Homo sapiens: one gene and its partners. The protein of the gene in region 1 purifies or fractionates together with the protein of each later gene. This does not show direct contact. Each region holds a gene or a part of one and is shown in the gene's direction. Other genes may lie near its edges.

Region 1 (3,657 bases):
CAGCTTCAGCAGGAGTGCAGGCTCATGGGATCAGAGAACCACCTTTTCCGCTTTGTTCTTCCAGCCCAGCCAACAAGTTTGTAGCTATTTCCCTGCATTAAAACTCCCCTCTGTTTGAAATATCTATAGTAATTTTTCTTTTCCTGACTAATACAACCTGTTAAAGAAGCTGAAGCTCTGGTAAGTTAAATGCCCAACAATGGTCTTGAGTAGCTAGTGATTTTTGTTGCTATTGGTAAGTAAATCTAGACACTACTTTTTAGTCCCTTTTTTAAAAGAGGACTGGTTTATCTATGATGAATACATGATTGATTGATTGATTGATTGATTGATTTTTACTTTTTCTTTTTTTTTTTTTGAGACGGAGTCTTGCTCTGTCACCCAGGCTGGAGTGCAGTAACATGATCTCTGCTCACTGCAAGCTCCTCCTCCCGGGTTCACGCCATTCTCCTGCCTCAGCCTCCTGAGTAGCTGGGGCTACAGGCATCTGCCACCACGCCCGGCTAATTCTTTTGTATTTTTAGTAGAGACGGGGTTTCACCATGTTAGCCAGGATGGTCTCGATCTCCTGACCTTGTGATCCGCCTGCCTCAGCCTCCCAAAGTGCTGAGATTACAGGCATGAGCCACCACGCCCGGCCTAATTTATTAAAACTTTCGGGTGGTCAGGTAATTCTGATTTGTCAGCCATATTTCTAAATTATCATTGTATTTTATCTTACAGTTCTTTACAATGTAGAAAATCTTATTTGAGTGTTGTTTACCTCTAATAATCATGTTTTAAATCTAGAGATGCCCAATTTTGAATAAAATGGAAGCCTTTCTAAAAGACTATAATTTTAAATGATAATATTCCATTCATATAATAATTGCTACTTCACATGTACACAATTGAGTGCCCTAAATACTAAACTTAAAGAAACTAATACTTCAGGTGATTGCTAAACTCTTAATATCTATTTCTCAATTTCAAAGTTGAAAACCAGCAACTTATAACCTAAAACAATTTTTTTTCTGTTTCTCCTTTCTAAAGCTCTTTCACCATGCCTGGATCACTTCCTTTGAATGCAGAAGCTTGCTGGCCAAAAGATGTGGGAATTGTTGCCCTTGAGATCTATTTTCCTTCTCAATATGTTGATCAAGCAGAGTTGGAAAAATATGATGGTGTAGATGCTGGAAAGTATACCATTGGCTTGGGCCAGGCCAAGATGGGCTTCTGCACAGATAGAGAAGATATTAACTCTCTTTGCATGACTGTGGTTCAGAATCTTATGGAGAGAAATAACCTTTCCTATGATTGCATTGGGCGGCTGGAAGTTGGAACAGAGACAATCATCGACAAATCAAAGTCTGTGAAGACTAATTTGATGCAGCTGTTTGAAGAGTCTGGGAATACAGATATAGAAGGAATCGACACAACTAATGCATGCTATGGAGGCACAGCTGCTGTCTTCAATGCTGTTAACTGGATTGAGTCCAGCTCTTGGGATGGTATGTTACATGCCTATTCCCCGCCGTCCCCCAAAATTTTTTTCTAAGGTTCAATAGACCCAGATGACACTTTAATTAATGCAATACGCAAACTTTTGTAATTTGTCCTTGTTTGGATATATTAAGAAAGATATTTTACCTGTCTGTCATTATCCGAATTGTGAATTGGTTATCTTATCTTGTAGGACAAATGGTCTATTCAAAATTTAGTCAGATGGATGACAGAGCCTTGGCAGATGAATTTTAAAAAAAAATTAGAGCATTTTCTTTCTTTATCAAAGAAGGGAAAAGCATATTCTGGGGAAAATATAACAGACTTCAGTTTCCATGTTTGGTTATAGTGTTGAATTCCTTCTTGTGAAATAACAAAAAATATTTTTCAGGACGGTATGCCCTGGTAGTTGCAGGAGATATTGCTGTATATGCCACAGGAAATGCTAGACCTACAGGTGGAGTTGGAGCAGTAGCTCTGCTAATTGGGCCAAATGCTCCTTTAATTTTTGAACGAGGTAAGTGCTTGGGAAAGCATTTTTGTTTTTTTTAGCACAATATGCTGAGAAATTTGAAAATAGAAGTAGGAGCTGTCGCTTACTTAATGGTCATTAAATGCAGGTACTACTTGCTAAGAGCTTTATGTGTGTTATCATATTTATGTTTTTTTTTCTTTTTTTTTTTTTTTGAGACCGAGTTTCACTCTTGTTGCCCAAGCTGGAGTGCAATGGCACGATCTCGGCTCACTGCAACCTCTGCCCCCAGGTTCAAGTGATTCTCCTGCCTCAGCCTCCTGAGTAGCTGGGATTGCAGGCACACACCACCATGCCTGGCTAATTTTTTGTATTTTTAGTAACAGGGTTTCACCATGTTAGCCAGGCTGGCATCGAATTCCTGACCTCAGGTGATCCGCCCCCCTCAACCTCCCAAAGTGCTGGGATTACAGGCGTAAGCCACCATGCCTGGCCTGTATTTAATCTTCATAGCAGTTTTATGAGGTAGGTGGTGTCATCCCCACTTTACAGAGAAGTGGGTTAATGTAGGGTTCAAATGATAAATAGTAACTTGCTGATAGTCACTGGCAATTTTAATTTGTCTTCAGTGTAGTAGAGTAACTGTGAACTGTTAGAGTTATGAAACTGACATGGAAAGTTGTATACCAAAGGAGTCTTAGGACTGTCCATGGATACTGTTATGTATCATTTCACTTATATTGGCTTCAGCTTGCGATTTCTCTACTGTAAGTGGTGAGAATTGATCAGATAGTTAAGGAAGGTCCTTAGATAATGCAGTATACTTATTAACATACAGACATCAAGAAGCAGAAATATATAGACATCTTCCTTTTTGGTTCTAATAGGGCTTCGTGGGACACATATGCAACATGCCTATGATTTTTACAAGCCTGATATGCTATCTGAATATCCTATAGTAGATGGAAAACTCTCCATACAGTGCTACCTCAGTGCATTAGACCGCTGCTATTCTGTCTACTGCAAAAAGATCCATGCCCAGTGGCAGAAAGGTAAGTTTTACCCATTTTCCTTGGTTTTGGTATGAGTTGAGAGCAGTCTAATGTACTAGGTATCTTTGGTAGGCAACTACTTTGTGGGCATTCTTCATTTAATATCCTTTTACCATTAATTCCTCATTCACCAAACAACATTTTCCCATAGTTTCTGGGAAAGTGTAATTTACTAGAAGAGGTAAACTTTGGAACTGAGGTGTATCTCTGCAAAAATATTTAGGTCGGTTTACCCCTTGTAAGAAAATCAAAGTGGAGAAAAGAAGGTAAGTTGAATTTTGTTCATCTTTTGAGAGAGGTATTTTAACAAGGTTTTGGACTACAGCTGTGATTCAGGGAAAGCTAATGAAAATGAATTACTAAAGTGATCTTACCCCAAAAATAATCTTTTTGCACTTGACCTGTGAATTTGTATTTGTTTTTTTACTGTTATCATTAATCTGGAAATTTGTTGAGGCACTGAAAGGACAGTATTTGAGTTAATGCTATCATAACACATTATTACATAAAGTATACTTTTTCTGTAGTCCAACTTTGCTTTTTAGAGGTTATGAGAAGGGGTTAAAAATCATATTCAATGACAAATATCAGTGAATTTAGTCGCTCTGGATAAGAAGCATTCTTGCAGTATATATTAACAGAATAGTGGTT
Region 2 (3,757 bases), on another chromosome or scaffold:
TCAGATCTTCAAACTGTTAAATTTATACAGGTGATATATTGGTGTCCTGACCAGGAGACAGGGTAAAAGTAGTCTCATACTTTATAAAAAGAAGTCTAAAACTTTTTTAAAATTAGTTTTATATTTTTAAAATGTAATCTCTTAGGCTTATAATCTAAAGTTTTAAAATTAGGCATGCTTTAATGTAACCTCATTCTAGAGCAGTAGTTATTTTTAAATTATATTCTAAAGTATTTCTTTATTGTAACAAAATTATGTTGTTTTCACAGGCCTTGCAGTTGAAATTCAGCCATAAAGAAAATGAAGTGATTTAAAATTGCAAATTTTTGTTACTTCAGTAGTTGTTAATATATAATTTTATTAAAAAGGTTTATTGAAAATCGTGAGGCACTTTATTGTATGGATGCCTTTAAACTTAGTAGACAAAGGTTTCTTTTTTTCTTAATCGAGAAACTTTCAATATTTTACAGTAGTTTGAATTACTGCTAACTCTAACATACTGCTTGTTTTATTATCTTTAAAAATTGAATGTGCATATCCTTGATATGAAGAAAATCTCATCAGGCAATTGACCCCAAATATGTCAGGGTATCTAAATTTTTGTCACTTGTAGTAATTTACATTTTTTTTCCTGTCCTTAGATATATTATTGTGTATTGAAGGAAGTATTCATGATTAAATTATTCACAGTTACTTGATGAAAGTATTCGTCAGAGTTTTCATGGCTGGTGTTATTTTAAATTTTAAGCGTATGTTGGATTGTGAAGATAGGAGAATAGGAACAAGACTTAAAAAGCTTGGAATTGGGGTCTCATGATGCTTGAGCTTTTGTACCCATTTTACTGTTTACTAAATCATTTATTATATTTAATAATTGTCAGAATATTAAGATAACTTGATTTTTAGATATCTAACTTTATGTTTTGTTTGTTTGTATAGGAAATGTTTTTCTAAAACATGGTTCAGAACTGCGGATTATTCCTAGAGATCGTGTTGGAAGTTGTTAATATCTGCTACTTGGAACATACGATTGCCTTTCAGAATAAATATTGGTATTTTTTGTTGTTGTAAAATTGAAATCAGGCATTTAACATACTATGAAAACACCAGGAGTCAATGATTAATGAAAGGTGACTCATCTGTCCCTTTTTGTTGTCCATACTCTTCCTATGAAGAGGGAATGCGTATGAATTAAGGCTACTACTGTCACAGAAGATCATAGTCTTTGATGCTACCTCACAACACAAACAGGTAGTTCGTTGGGGGCAAATGAATTAGCCAACTGTTAACTGGAAGCTTTTGATAATTTTTTTTTTTAGAACAATTTGGAACATTAAAATTTACTGAATCGTATATATTCATCTGAGATAAAAATATAAAAAGAATTATGGACCCTGGATGGCAATTTGCTTGATAGCATCTGATTTGCAGACTCATAATTTGATTTTTAATTAAATATATAGGTTGTGATGAAGTGAATAGACATATCAGTGAACAGTTAACTATATTAAATTTTTATCATTTACTTTTTTTAAGATTCAGACCTCAGTTATATAAATTTCAGTTTAATATCAACCAAAAAATTAAAATTTTAATCTAACCCTTATGTGTATAAATTGGTGTCCCATACCAGCTTTTAATGGTGGACCTATAGAATCCAGTACTTTTAATGGTGGGAATTTACAGTAGAAGCATCCTTTGCTGAGTTATACATTCCTTTATCAATCTCTTTTGATACAACATTTAAAACAAGTAGCTTCAAGAAACCACTGGTGTTTTGAGGATAGTATTTCTAAATAGCATTCAGGAACAGAGTATTATTGCACAGATCTGAAGATCAAAAAAAAGCTCAAGGAAATACAGATCGGAAGTGCTGATGAGTTATATTTATTGAAAACCCAACTTTTAAGGAAGTGCTAAGATCAGTCACCCATGTGAATAAGAAGCCAGGAAAGGAAAGATGGGGAAGCCCAGATCACCAGGCTTCTATTAAGGAGGAAAGCAACAGAGGAAACAGTGAAGGGGAACAGAAGGGGGTAGCAAAGTGTTACAGAAAAGCGGACTGGATAGACAAAACTGCAGAAGGTGTATGTTGGGGAGAACTGAAAGGGAAAACAAAATACTTGACATAGTCTTAAGTAGAAGAAGGCAGTTAGAGAAAACAAAGTATCTACTGGCCTTGTCAACATACAGACTTCAAAATACCCCTTATGAGAATCCAAAGAATGATGTGTGTAAGGGAAGATTTTATTTGCCCTTCCGGAAGAAATCAGTATCTATGCAAATCTTGAAAGACGAAATCAAAGCCCATTAATGATTCAGAATCAGTGCTTGACCTCCTGTATTCTGAATGGTGAACTCTGGAAGCAGGGATTGTGTCTGGCTCTTTTTAGAGCTGGAAATGTAGTGGCTTTCATTAAATACTTGCTGTAAAGTCTTTCTAAGACCAATTATTATCTTAGCATGTTTCAGTATCTTCTCTATCATAGGCCCTAAGTTCATTGGGGGAAAAAAAATAAGAAGATTCAACAGAATCAGCATTTGAAGTGTACCATTGGTAGTTGTTTATGAAATTACCAGATATTCATAAATGTGACAAATGAACAGCAGGATTATGAATTATCAAAGGAAAAAGTATTTGCTGAGGTGAAAAAATCTGATGTTTGAGGAAGTTTTTATTTTTATTTATTTGTTTTGTTTTTTTTTTTTTGAGGCAGACTCTCTGTCGCCAGGCTTCTCCTGCCTCAGCCTCACGAGTAGCTGGGACTACAGGCATGCACCACCACGCCCAGCTAATTTTTGTATTTTTAGCAGAGACAGGGAGGAAGTTTTTATTTTTATAAACAAAATCTGATGTTCAGAGGCCCCGTTTCTTACAATAAATGTTGAGTCTTAGTTAAGCAGGAATTTATGAACACCCATTTCCTGACTTTTTGCTTTAATTTAGATTTTTCTCCATCCTGTTTCTAGCACAAAAATTTGCCTGCTGTGTTACAAAAATAAATTTATGTTGTCCTGTGCCATAAAGTGATATATTTAATATTTTTATTCTTTGGTTTTGAACATTGTAAGTTCCTAAAAACATTTTATTAAACAAGTAGACATTTTGTTATTAAAAAAATGTGATCTGTAATTTCTTTGTGCAGAATGATTTGAAGTATTGTATTCAGTTTACATGCGTTATTGGTTTATAATTAATATCTAATGAAAATACATGTTGTTATATTGTAAACCATATTGTCTGTTCTTATTATTAGAGCTCTTAATCAGCACACCTTTTGAGTCAGTATATAATACATGTAGTAAAGAAAAAAAGGGCAAAGATGATTAATGACCATAAGTCAGAGAAATTAGTTTATAGTCATCTGCCACAGACATAGTAGTGATGTTTCGTCCAACAACAGACCGCATATATGACCGTGGTCCCATATTACTATATTTTTACTGTGCTTTATCTATGTTTGGATACACAAGTACTTACCATCATTTTACAGTTGTTTACAGTATTAGGTACAGTAACATGCTCTACAGGTTTGTAGCCTAGGAGCAATAGGCCATACCAAATAGCCTAAGTTTGTAGTAGGTGACATCAACTAGGTTTGTACAAGTACATTCTGATGTTCACATAGTGACAAAATTGCCTAAGGAAGCATTTCTCAGAATTTGTTCCTGTGATTCAGTGATACATAACAGTACTTGCAAATGCCTGTCCATTTTACAGACGGAAAAAAAAAAAAAAAAAGTTGAGAAGAAAATG
Region 3 (3,657 bases), on another chromosome or scaffold:
CTCTGTGAACACCTGGTCCTCTGATGTGTCAGAAGGAGGTTCAGGTGTTGGAGACCAGGTGCCAGTGGGACTGACACATGCCTTTGGGAAGAATGGAGGGCTCCCTAGATGCCAAGAGAATCTGAGGCTCCCAGTACCATTCTCCTGGGATAGTTCGGGGAGGGTAGAAGATAAATATGACGATATGTGACATAGTAGGTTTCCAAATGTTAGTTTTAAAACTAAACAAAGTAGTAGGAAATTGAGTTAAATTTTTTTTGTTATCAATGTTATAGGAATTCAGATTTAAAAGATAACCATCAAAAGCCAGAGTGGTCAGTGATAGGGAAGTAAGACTTGAGCTATCCTTGAACATTGAAGACAAGGTGATGGGCAGATAGGAACAGGAGTCCCTCCAAGCAAGAGAAGCAAGCTGGAAGAAGATGCAGAAACAGTGGGCAGGTTCTAGGTTGGAGGGGAGGAAAGAGGCAGTGAAGCTGAGTACAGGGGCTGGACAAAGGGGGTAGAAGTCCTTTTTTAAAATTTTTTTAAGAGATGGGGTCTTGCTGTGTTGCCCAGGCTGATCTTGAACTCCTGGCCTCAAGTGATGCTCCCACCTCAGCCTCCCAAAGTGCTAGGATTACAGGTATGAGCCACTGCACTCAGCCACGATGTAGAAGTTCTTGAAGGACAGATGCTTTCCTCTGAGACATTAGGAAAAAGTTACTGATATGATGACACTGGCTTAGCAAGATTAATTAGGTGATTTTGAAACATACAATGCATTATTATTTATTGTAGTCACCATCCTGTACAATAGATCACTAAAGCTTATTCTTCCTGTGTAACTGAAATTTTGTACCCATTGATAAAAATCTCTCTTTCCCCATTTACTGCACCCCCCCACCTCTGATAACCATCACTCTACTCTCTAATTCTGTGACTTTGACTTCTTTAGATTCTACACAGACAAGCATACCTTGAAGATATTGCAGATTCAGGTCTAGACCACCACAATAAAGCAAATATCGCAATAAAGTGAGACCCACAGTTGTTTTTTGTTTCCCAGTGCATATAAAAGTTGTGTTTACACTCTTCTGTATCCTATCATGCAATAGCATGTCTAAAAATGTACATACCTTAATTTAAAAATGTTTTATTCCTAAAAAGTGCTAGTGATTACCTGAGCCTTCAGTGAGTCATGATCTTTTTGCCAGTGGAGGGTCTTGCCTTGATGTTGATGGCTGCTGACTGATCAGGGTAGTAGTTGCTAAAGGTTGGGGTGGCTGTGGCAATTTCTAAAAATAAGACAACAGTAAAGTTTGCCACATTGATAGACTCTTCCTTTCATGAAAGATTTCTCTGTAGCTTATGACACAGTTTAATAGCATTTTACCCACAATAGAACATCTTTTGAAATTGGAGTCAATCTTCTCAAACTCTGCCACTGCTTTATCAATTAAGTTTATGTAATAAATCCATTGTTGTAATTTCAACAGTGTTCACACTATCTTCACCAGGACTAGATTCCCTCTCAAGGAACCACTTCTTTGTAGTAACTTCTCATGCATTCAAGTTTTATCATGAGATTGCAGCAATTCAGTCAGAACTTAAGGTTCCACATCTAATTCTAGTTCTCTTGCTATTTCCATCACATCTGCAGTTACTTCTTCCACGGAAGCCTGAATCTTCAAAGTCATCCATGAGGGTTGGAGTCAAATCTTCCAAACTTCGCTTAATGTTGCTATTTTGACCTCCTCCTTATAAATGTTCTTAATGACATCTAGAATGGTGAATTCTTTCCATAAGGTTTTCAATTTACTTTGCCCAGATTCATCAGAGGAATCACTATCTAGGGCAACAATAGCCTTACAAAATGTATTTCTTAAATAATAAAGACTTGAAAGTCAAAATTACTCCTTGGGCCATGGGCTGCAGAAAGGACATTGTGTTAGCAGGCACAAAAACAATATTAATTTTGTACATCTCCATTAGCGCCTTTGGGTGACTAGGTGCATTGTCAATGAGCAGTAATATTTGGAAAGGAATCAATTTTTTCTTTTGAGCAGTAGGTCTCAACAGTGGGCTTAAAATATTAAGTAGACCATGCTGTAAACAGATGTCCTGCCATGCAGGCTTTGTTGTTCCATTTATACAGCACAGTCAGAGTACATTTAGCATAATTCTTAAGGGCTGTAGGATTTGCAGAATAGTAAATGAGCCTTGGCTTCACCTTAAGGAAACCAGCTGCATTAATCCCTAATGAGAATCAGCCTGTCCTTTGAAGCTTTGAAGCCAGGCATTGACTTTCTCTCTAGCTATGAAAGTCTTAGCTGGGATCTTCTTCCTATATAGGCTGTTTCTTCTGCATTGAATATCTCCATGTTATCAATAAGGTTGTTTCACTTTCTCATTGTTTGTGTGTTCACCAGAGTAGTACTTTTAATTTCCTCCAAGAACTTTTCCTTTGCATTCATAACTTGGCTGTTTGGTGCAAGAGGCATAGGTTTTGGCTTATCTTAGCTTTCTACATGCCTTCCTTACTAAGCTTAATCATTTCTAGCTTTGGATTTAAAGTGAGAAACTTGAAACTTTTCCTTTCACTTAACACTTAGAGGCCATTGTAGGGTTATTAACTGGACTAATTTTAATATTGTTGTGTCTCAGGAAATAAGGAGGCTCAAGGAGAGGGAGAGAGATGGGGGAAATACCAGTCAGCAGAGCACTCAGAAAACACACAACATTTATTGATTAAGTTTGGCATCTTATATGGGGGCGGTTTGTGGCGCTCCCAAATAGTTAAAATAGTAACATCAAAGATCACAGAGTTCAGGATCAGCCTGGGAAACATGGCAAAACCCTGTCTCTCAAAAAAAAAAAATTAGCTGGGCATGATGGTATATGCCTGTAGTCCCAGCTGCTCGGGAGGCTGAGGTGAGAGGATGAGCCAAGGTAATGCCACTGCACTCCAGGAGGCAGACGTTTCAGTGAGCCAAGATCATGCCACTGTACTCCAGCCTGGGCAACAGAGCCAGACCCCATTTCAAAAAGAAAAACAAATCATAAATCATAGATCACCTTGACAGATTTAATAGTAATGAAAAAGTTTGGAATATTATGAGAATTACCAGATTTTACACAGAGACATGAATGAGCACATGCTGTTGGAAAAATGGCACTGATAGACTTGCTCAATGCAGAGTTCTCCAAACCTTCAATTTGTGAAAAATGCAATCTCTGTAAAGAGCAATAAAATGATGTATGCCTATGTTACTAAAAGGTTAACTTTACATATTTTCATCACGTAAAAATGAAAGTATGTGAGCTGATGGATTTTGTTTACATTAGTTAATCATATATCAAATGTAAATATATATGAAAACATCACATTGTACTCCATAAATATATACAATATACAATTATTTGTCAATTAAAAATAAAACAAAATATTTAAATGCAATAAAAATATTTTTTCCAAAAAGATTAATTAGTTGGCTATGGATAGATGGATTGTGCAGGTGAAAGGGAGGAGTTTGTCACAGGCACTAATAAGGTTTACATTCTACAATAAGATAATGGAAGGACCATTGGGAGGGACTTTTCTTCTAGGCAGTGATCAACAGGGCTTGGTGTGGGGATAGTGGATCCACAGGGAGCCAAAGGTTTGAGGTTTGGGGC

What was found.
Region 2: the proteins of HMGCS1 (region 1) and UFM1 fractionate together in Homo sapiens (co-fractionation; one large-scale study listed by BioGRID). This does not show direct contact.
Region 3: the proteins of HMGCS1 (region 1) and ACP6 fractionate together in Homo sapiens (co-fractionation; one large-scale study listed by BioGRID). This does not show direct contact.

What each region holds. Positions count from the first base shown.
Region 1 is NC_000005.10:43,296,351-43,300,007, reverse strand, and holds part of HMGCS1 (hydroxymethylglutaryl-CoA synthase, cytoplasmic), read left to right. Parts: intron 1-1,032; 5' UTR 1,033-1,042; coding exon 1,043-1,490; intron 1,491-1,873; coding exon 1,874-1,999; intron 2,000-2,841; coding exon 2,842-3,006; intron 3,007-3,657. UniProt on the Homo sapiens protein: Catalyzes the condensation of acetyl-CoA with acetoacetyl-CoA to form HMG-CoA, which is converted by HMG-CoA reductase (HMGCR) into mevalonate, a precursor for cholesterol synthesis.
Region 2 is NC_000013.11:38,359,772-38,363,528, forward strand, and holds part of UFM1 (ubiquitin-fold modifier 1), read left to right. Parts: intron 1-269; coding exon of another isoform or gene 270-295; exon of another isoform or gene 296-939; coding exon 940-1,007; 3' UTR 1,008-3,757. UniProt on the Homo sapiens protein: Ubiquitin-like modifier which can be covalently attached via an isopeptide bond to lysine residues of substrate proteins as a monomer or a lysine-linked polymer.
Region 3 is NC_000001.11:147,660,519-147,664,175, reverse strand, and holds part of ACP6 (lysophosphatidic acid phosphatase type 6), read left to right. Parts: intron 1-3,657. UniProt on the Homo sapiens protein: Hydrolyzes lysophosphatidic acid (LPA) containing a medium length fatty acid chain to the corresponding monoacylglycerol.